Homo sapiens: one gene and its partner. The protein of the gene in region 1 interacts with the protein of each later gene in a biochemical or structural test. Each region holds a gene or a part of one and is shown on either strand. Other genes may lie near its edges. The genes, in order: S100G and SLC8A1.

Region 1 (4,293 bases):
AGTCCTCAGTTTGTAGGTGATATAAGGCAGAGTCAGGGAAAATTCTATAAGTGTGGAAGTGTACAAGTGTTTCAAAGCTGTAAAGTGCTCTTAAAATCCACCTGGAACCCCTTCCTGTGAGTTACAATCAGCATTAGATCAATGTCCCTTGGAAATGTCCTACTTATTTCATGGAACTCTTTCCAGTAGAAATCAATCTCCTTGGCAATTTTAAATCATGGCAGTTACAAAAAGTTTGAAGTATTTCCAACTGAACAAGAGTAAGTCGAGTGTTCTCACAAGTTTTTCGAATGATCACGAAATATATTTGGTAAGGAAAAGGATAATGAGAAATAAAAAGCAGACACAGGACCAACAAATAATGAAAGAGCTGAAAAAATGACCATGTTACTCAATATTGATTTGCCAAATAAAACCACAAATTACTGAGTATCTTCTTTCCACTTCTTAAACCTGCTTCTGAAGCAATACTTCCATTCATTCATTCATGTATTCAAATATTTAAGCTGCTAATATGTAAAGACATCAGAAGGACTTCAATGGCCATACCGTAATTTTTTAAACTATGTAATATTGTCCTTCTATGACAGCATTTTTTCTTTTTTACAGACAGGATCTCACTCTGTCACCCAGGCTGGAGTGCAGTGGCACAATCATGGCTCACTGTTGCCTCAACCTCCCAGGCTTAAGGAATCCTCCCACCTCAGCCTCTACAGTAGCTGGGACTACAGGCATGTACCATCACACCTGGCTGATTTTTTAAATTTTTCAGTAGAAATGTCTTGCTGTGTTGACCAGGCTGGTATCAAACTCCTCACCTCAAGCAATCCTCCTGCCTCGGCCTCCCAAAGTGCTGGGATTACAGGCATGAGCTACCGCACAGGGCAGCATTTATTTTTTCTGGATATGAAGAAAGTTATTTTTTAAAGCCTAAATATGCAACTAAATTGAAAAGAATCCTCTATATCTAAGCTTTATGAAATGTGAACTGTGAGCAAATATAATTCTACATTGGAGGGAAAATATAATCTCAGGGGGAAAAAAATCCAAGCTTACGACTCTGAACCATGAAGCAACTGTCGAGATGGACCTTTACTGGATCTTGCCCTTAATTATGGGGTTCATGCAGTCTTAAGCCTGAGTTTCAAAAACCATTAATAATTACCCTTAAATGGCCAACAAAAGGAAATTTTCATAATCAGGGTGGCGTGCCCGTAAAGACTATAAAAGTGTCATGATTCTGCTCAGCTCTTCAAACTCCTCTTTGATTCTTCTAGCTGTTTCACTATTGGGCAACCAGGTTAGTGTGATTTTGGTACTACCTAGAGCTCCTTCTGTTTGCATTAATACTCTGCTTCCTTTTAGAATGGTGTGAAAGATAATGGTCTGGAGAGAAGGTGAGTTTATGCCATCTGGAGATATTCCCTGTAACTTAGAAGCTAGAAGCTGTGGTCAAGTATTCTTCAAGACCACAGCCTGCAGAGTGCAGATCAGGTACATAAAAAGTGTAGAATGTCATTAATTACTAATAAAAATGTTTGGCTCCAGGGACCATCTCCTAACAGATGTACTCTAAGAACAGACATTTAACATACTATCTAAGATGTCTTTTTTTTTTTTTTTTTTTTTTTGCAGCGGAGGCTCGCTCTGTCACCCAGGCTGGAGTGCAGTGGCATCGCACTCACTGCAACCTCCGCCTCCCGGGTTCAAGCGATTCTCCTGCCTCGGTCTTCCAAGTAGATGGGACTATAGGCACGCACCACCACGCCTGGCTAATTTTTGTATAGAGACAGGGTCTCACCATGTTGGCCAGGCTTCCATGGTCTCGAACTCCTGACTTCAAGTGATCCACCCTCCTTGGCCTCCCAAAGTGCTGGGATTACAGGCATGAGCTACCGTGCCTGGCCTAAGATGCTTATTTTTTAAACATGTTAGTAGTTACTGGTGCCATTCCGACCCCGACATTCTCTTTTCCTTATTCTTCCCCATTTATGCCAAGGAAATGGCCCAATGGCACTAAAATCCTGCAGACAACCCTCAGCACAAAACTGTACTTCAGCTTTTTGGTAAGTTTATTTTCTTCCCAATTTATAAGACACCAGAATGAGTACTAAAAAGTCTCCTGAGGAACTGAAGAGGATTTTTGAAAAATATGCAGCCAAAGAAGGTGATCCAGACCAGTTGTCAAAGGATGAACTGAAGCTATTGATTCAGGCTGAATTCCCCAGTTTACTCAAAGTAAGTGGCCATCCGCAGAGCCCACTTAATGGGACTGATGGTGGGAGGGGAGGGAGGGAGGGGAGAGGACTCCGGTAGAGCCTTATAGGGACCGTCGCTTGAGGGAGGACACATGCAGGTGGGGTTTCTTCCCCTTAAGTCAGGCCACATTTCAGAAGGCAAGCTCTCAGAAAACAAGGGCCAAGCCTTCTATCCCTCCTGCAGCCTCAGCACAGGACTCTGCAGGACTAGCCATAATAAATGGAAGCAATGCCAAGTTATGCCTGGAAGACCCACAAGTCACCAAGCAAACCCAATAAGGCCTTCAGCATGGATTCAGTACTTCTGTGCCAGGCTTTAGGAAAACAAAGAGGACTGCAAAATAGTGTTAGCTGGCCTTGGACAGGCTTCATTTGTGTATGTAAAATCCCTCAACAAGACCAACACTTACTTAGCAGTCTGTTAGGAAAACCCACTGACAAATTGCCTTGTCAGCACTCATTTATATTTCAAAAGCATTTACATTTGTGTTCATCACTTAAATTTGTGTTAATGAGGCAACCGTGCATTTCTAAACAACTTTCAAGAAAGGACTAAATTTCCTGGGCCATAAAGTTTCACATCAAAATCACCCCAGAGTTGTCAAAATCAAAATGCATTCAAGGCAACAGAGTACAGAGAAGAGCTGATCGTCCTCACTCCAATATACAGTACTGTCTTTCCTTTTGCTAAAGAAAAAGCTGAGTCAGGACACTTGCCAAGGATGGTAAGGCAACTTACTCCAGGAGGGCCATGGCGACCCATACAGGGACCACTGAAACGTGTTCTTGCCATGGGGAGAGAGATTGGGCTCAACTCCAGAAAGGATAAGTGGGGGTTTATGACCATAGAGCAGGATGGGGGGGGCCAGTGGATGGAAAATTACCAAGGAAATATCCAGGATAAGGAGCTTCTGGCTAAATTGCCTTGATAGGATTCTAGCTGAAGGCAGGCCAGGTGATCAAATATTAAGGGTAGTCAGATACAAGGACAGAGAGGGAAGCCCAAGGTCAGGCCTAGTCGAGCAGAGGACTCAAAGGAGAGAGTCATTGTCATTTTGCAATTAAAAACCATCTTCACAACAGAAGTGACTATGGAATTGTTTTGTATGACTCAGTCACTATTTAGCTCTAACTTCAGGAAAGAACATTTCTTCAAATATTTTAACCAGCTCTCCAGATTTTAACCAGAAATGTCCCTTCTGCCAATATGACAATTGGAAAGACTTCTGTTTTTAATACTAAAAAAGAAAAAAGCTGAATTCAATGACCCCAGAATCTGATATTTTCTCATTTTCTCATAGTTGAAATATAGAAGAACTTGTAAAAACACTTAAAGTCACTAGCAGAAAAAGGGACTTTTTAATTAAACAGCAAAACAAGTTAGTGAAAAAATTTAAAATTTTAAAAGACCCTTTATTTTTTCTAAAAGGAAGAAAAATAATCATCTAACAGGAAAGCCTAGGCCATGTACTCAAACAAGTTGTTTCAAAAGGTAACACGGGTAACTTTTTCTATATTTTATGTCTTTCCTACAAAAAGTACGTAAGACATAATCTGGAACGAGGTAGGAAGACTAATGGTAAGTTCTGAAAGTCTACTTAACATGTACCTGATTATATTCCCATAAGGTTTCCATTACTAAGGTTTTCCACCATACTCTGTTTACATATATCATCACCATGCATGGTTTAGAATCTAGTAAAGGCTTCAGGAAAACAGTGTTTCATATTCATAAATCAAAGGCTGAATAAGTAACTTACAGTTTGGTCTTGTAATTAAAGCAAAGTGCTAAGTGTTTTTGTAGGAATCTTAGGGGTTAAAATATATCTTCCATAGAGATGTGCTGCACAAAATTGTGAATCTACTTAGCACTACTGAACTGTATGCTTAAAAATGATTAAGAGCGTAAATTCAATGTTATGTGTTTTTTACCACAATTTATATATACATATATATATATAATATAGTCTAATTTGAAACTGACAAACTGAACTGTTATTTCAATCGGTTTTCTAAGTAGTATTTTGCACAGATA
Region 2 (3,821 bases), on another chromosome or scaffold:
TCCCCAGAGTGTGATGTTCCCCTTCCTGTGTCCATGTGATCTCACTGTTCAATTCCCACCTATGAGTGAGAATATGCGGTGTTTGGTTTTTTGTTCTTGCGATAGTTTACTGAGAATGATGGTTATGAGGTGAGGGAACGAGGCTTAGAGATGACAAGTAGTGGATGCAATATCACAACTAGGAAAAAAACATGTTAGGGCTACAGCTCCTGCCTCATGTCTTCAAAACGAATGCTTTCTCATGGTGCTTTTCTACCTTTCACTGTGCTGTGGGCACCAATGATCATTTTCAAAGCCCTTTATTTACTCATAATCCTGACTGTATCTTTTTGTGATGATAGGAAAATCTTGGTCCACTACAGAAGGTTGAACAACAGTGACTTAAACTTCTTGATGGGTAGAACACAGGGGTTTAGAGCACATTTGAGCTGGGGGACTTCAAATCCTGCCTTCGCAGCTGACTGTGTGACTCTGGAAGATTACTTAACTTCTCTGGGCCTCAATTTCCTAATCTGTTAAATGGGGATGGTACTGCTCACTTCAGAGTGCTGTTGGTAAGGTGAAATACTACATGTAAATAAAATGCTTTTGATGCTTTTTGGCACAAAGTAGTAGGAGAGGCTGTTTTTGTTGTTTTGGAAACACAATATAAACCGAGCAGGCTAGATCGGTTTAAAAGTTGAGGTAGGATCTGAAATAGCTTCCTGTATTAAGCATGTGAACAGAACTTGCAAGATACTAAATTTCTTGTCCACATTATGCCTACTTACATCAAAGTCCTGGCTGGGCACGGTAGCTCATGCCTATAATCCCAGTACTTTGGGAGGCCGAGATGGGCGGATCACTTGAGGTTAGGAGTTCGAGACCAGTTTGGCCAACATGGTGAAACCCTGTCTATATACTAAAAATACAAAAAAAAAAAAAAAAAAAAAAAAAAGCCAGGCGTGGTGGTACACACCTGTAATCCCAGCTACTTGGGAGGCTGAAGCATGAGAATTGCTTGAACCCGGGAGGTGGAGGTTGCAATGACCCGTGACCATGCCACTGCACTCCAGCCTGGGCAACAGAGTGAGACTCCATCTCAAAAAAAAAAAAAAAATCAAATAAAGTCCTTTCAGCTACCTTGCACAGTAGGATTATAGCAGATATTAATAACTGTCAAATTGAACTTATTTCCAAAGCCAGTAACAGCAAGCATTAAATGACTGCAAGGTGTTGTGTTATCTGCTCTGGTCCTCCTGAGGTCCTGGGCATGCTCTGAGCATGTATGTAGTTGTACGATACCTGTACTAGTCTCTCCCCTCTGTTGTTATGCTATTGCCACCATCCTTCCTCCGTAAACTTCCAGTGGGGAAGATATGTACAGCATGTAAATATAGATCAGCCCATGGATTCTCCTGCTTTACAATGGATAAGAAGGCTTTTTAGGCTACTAAAAGGCTACTGCATCTGCAGTATGACATTCTTCCTGAAAGGGAGTTGGTCAATTCTGAAGGCCTATCATCAATTCTGCCCTCTGCCTGTGATGAAAAGCAGATCTGATTATTATTTCATAATTAAAGAAGTAGACAAACACTGCTTATTCCATGCTAGGCACTATGCTACACAGGCAACGTGTGTATTCTCATTCACCCCTCTCACAAGCATTATGGGCTAGATGTCATTACTCCTCTTTCATGATATGAGAAACTGTGACGTTGTGATATTATGCCTCTTGGATAGGGTCTTAGCAAATGTGAATTTTTAAACCAAAGTCTGATTTCAGAGCCCAGTCTCAGTCCACACCACATTGCCCCTTCCAGGAAGCCTGAAGTTTGTCTTTCCTCTTAGTTCATTTCAGGTGGCCCTGTTCCTTTCACTCAGAAACTTTGAAGCAGGTTCTTACCAAATGCTCTTTACTGTATCAGGAGAACAAAGATTGAAGAAGGTATGGGCAGTTTGTGAATCCAGACTCCTGGATTTGTGCTGCTTTGTGCATTCATGATCACACATTCACACAGCCCAATCAACTATCACAGAGACTGGTGAGTAAAAGCAAAGCGAGACAAATCTTAATGGTTTCTTGTACTTCATTATTAAAAGTTAATAGAAACAGGGCAGCAGCCTCAAAAAGAAAAAAAAGGAAGTTTTTTTTTTTTTTTTTTTTTTTTTTTTTAAGGTCAGGCAGTGGAACATGGAAAGTAAAGGAACAAAAGTCTGAGGCAGGAGAAAGCAGCTTCCAGCTCAGGTACAGCTGAGAAACACCTGAGATGTTATTCTAAGCTGAAATGGCTGGTAGCACTGGCTGGTGGTGAACAGATGGCCACGTTAGGTGGGGCAGTTGCGGGGGTGGTAATTCCCTCTGTATGCTACAGGGACAGGTGACCTGGTGCTGTTCCATAGAACACACCTGCTTACCTCCCCTGGCACCTGATACATTGCACACTGGACTTCCTGGGTATCCCATGTGTACTCAGAAACTCTGGGCTTTCTAGATGGCACCTTTGCTGCCGCACCAGAAGGAAAGGAAGTTTAAAATCAAAGACTCCTGGGTCTGGGGACTCAAAGCACCCAAACCAGTCCTTTAGGCTGACATGGAGGGCACACCTGGGTATGCAGTGATTTCCTCTCCCTCAAGCCATGTATCAGTAGCCTATTAATGTGAATGTTGCATAAGGATTCTTACTTGTAATAATAATAGGTTCCTATTTTCAAATGTCTTTCTTTGAATTTCCTAAGAGTTAATAGCCAAAGTGACTAGCTTGTCACATAAGTAAAACATGTTTTTGGCTACTTTGTGTCTCATAGGTTTTATTTACTTGGGTTAGACATCAGGCCTTTTGTCTGTTTTTATTTTCAATTCAAAAGCAATGTAAAAAAAAAAAAAATTGCAGGAACACACGCAAATCCAAACCACTAACCTTAGCTCCAACAGAGAGAACTCTGTTTTCCAAATGAAGTGCGATGGATTCTCCCCAAATTACCTTTTATTGCCGCTTTGCTGCTCAGCACATAGGGCAATACATCACATACCATATGTTAGGTGCTGCCAAGCCCTACTTTGAACACTAAGCCTGTAACCTGCCTATGGTTAAACCAGGCAAATGCCATATCCTAAAATAAAATCCAAGAAATAACTACTGCCTTGGGTTTGAAGGGGATATAATAATATTCAGAGGTTGGCCCATTAGATAAAAACTTTTATATATGGATCAGATTTCCAATGCGATTGACACAAAATATGTTGATAATAACACATGTATTTTTTCCTTCATCTATGTCCCTGGCTAGGTTTTTAATAGTTTTTGCTATTAACTCCCACCTTGAATTCTAATTAATTTTAGATCAGTCATACAGTTTTAGACTTTTAGTCCTGGCTCCTTGATACATATGACTATAAATCAATAAGAAGGAAGACTGTTGAGGAGACAGCATGGCTGGAATTAAACTACACATCACAAAGTCAGGACGTAATTGTTCTTTGCAGACCTGCCTCAAGTTCATGGTATATTACCTTGCCCAAGTCATCTGGTCAACATGCAAAAATAGGCCAATACTCTCCCTTTCCTTCAGCAATTATTCTTTACCTAAATTTCTCAAACTTTATTGCTACTTATAGGCTAAGCCTTAAACATCTCTTCTGCAAAAAAAGGTCATTCTCACAGTCTTGCAGGATGGATGCAGGGATAATGTATTATCTGGAGCAAGGGTTTCGCCCCAGATGGTTCATCTTATTCTTGGCTCTTAGTGTTCTTTGGGGACCAGCTGTTCAGCTCTCCAATGCTTCATGCCCAGGAACTGACACTGGCAGTGGTTTTAATTGGAGTCCATCCTGGCTATGA

The links.
Region 2: the proteins of S100G (region 1) and SLC8A1 interact in a biophysical measurement, tested with the Homo sapiens proteins (one large-scale study listed by IntAct).

What each region holds. Positions count from the first base shown.
Region 1 is NC_000023.11:16,648,904-16,653,196, forward strand, and holds the start of S100G (protein S100-G), read left to right. Parts: upstream 1-1,254; 5' UTR 1,255-1,300; intron 1,301-1,999; exon of another isoform or gene 2,000-2,095; 5' UTR 2,096-2,103; coding exon 2,104-2,238; intron 2,239-4,293.
Region 2 is NC_000002.12:40,116,482-40,120,302, forward strand, and holds part of SLC8A1 (sodium/calcium exchanger 1 isoform A precursor), read right to left. Parts: intron 1-3,821. UniProt on the Homo sapiens protein: Mediates the exchange of one Ca(2+) ion against three to four Na(+) ions across the cell membrane, and thereby contributes to the regulation of cytoplasmic Ca(2+) levels and Ca(2+)-dependent cellular processes.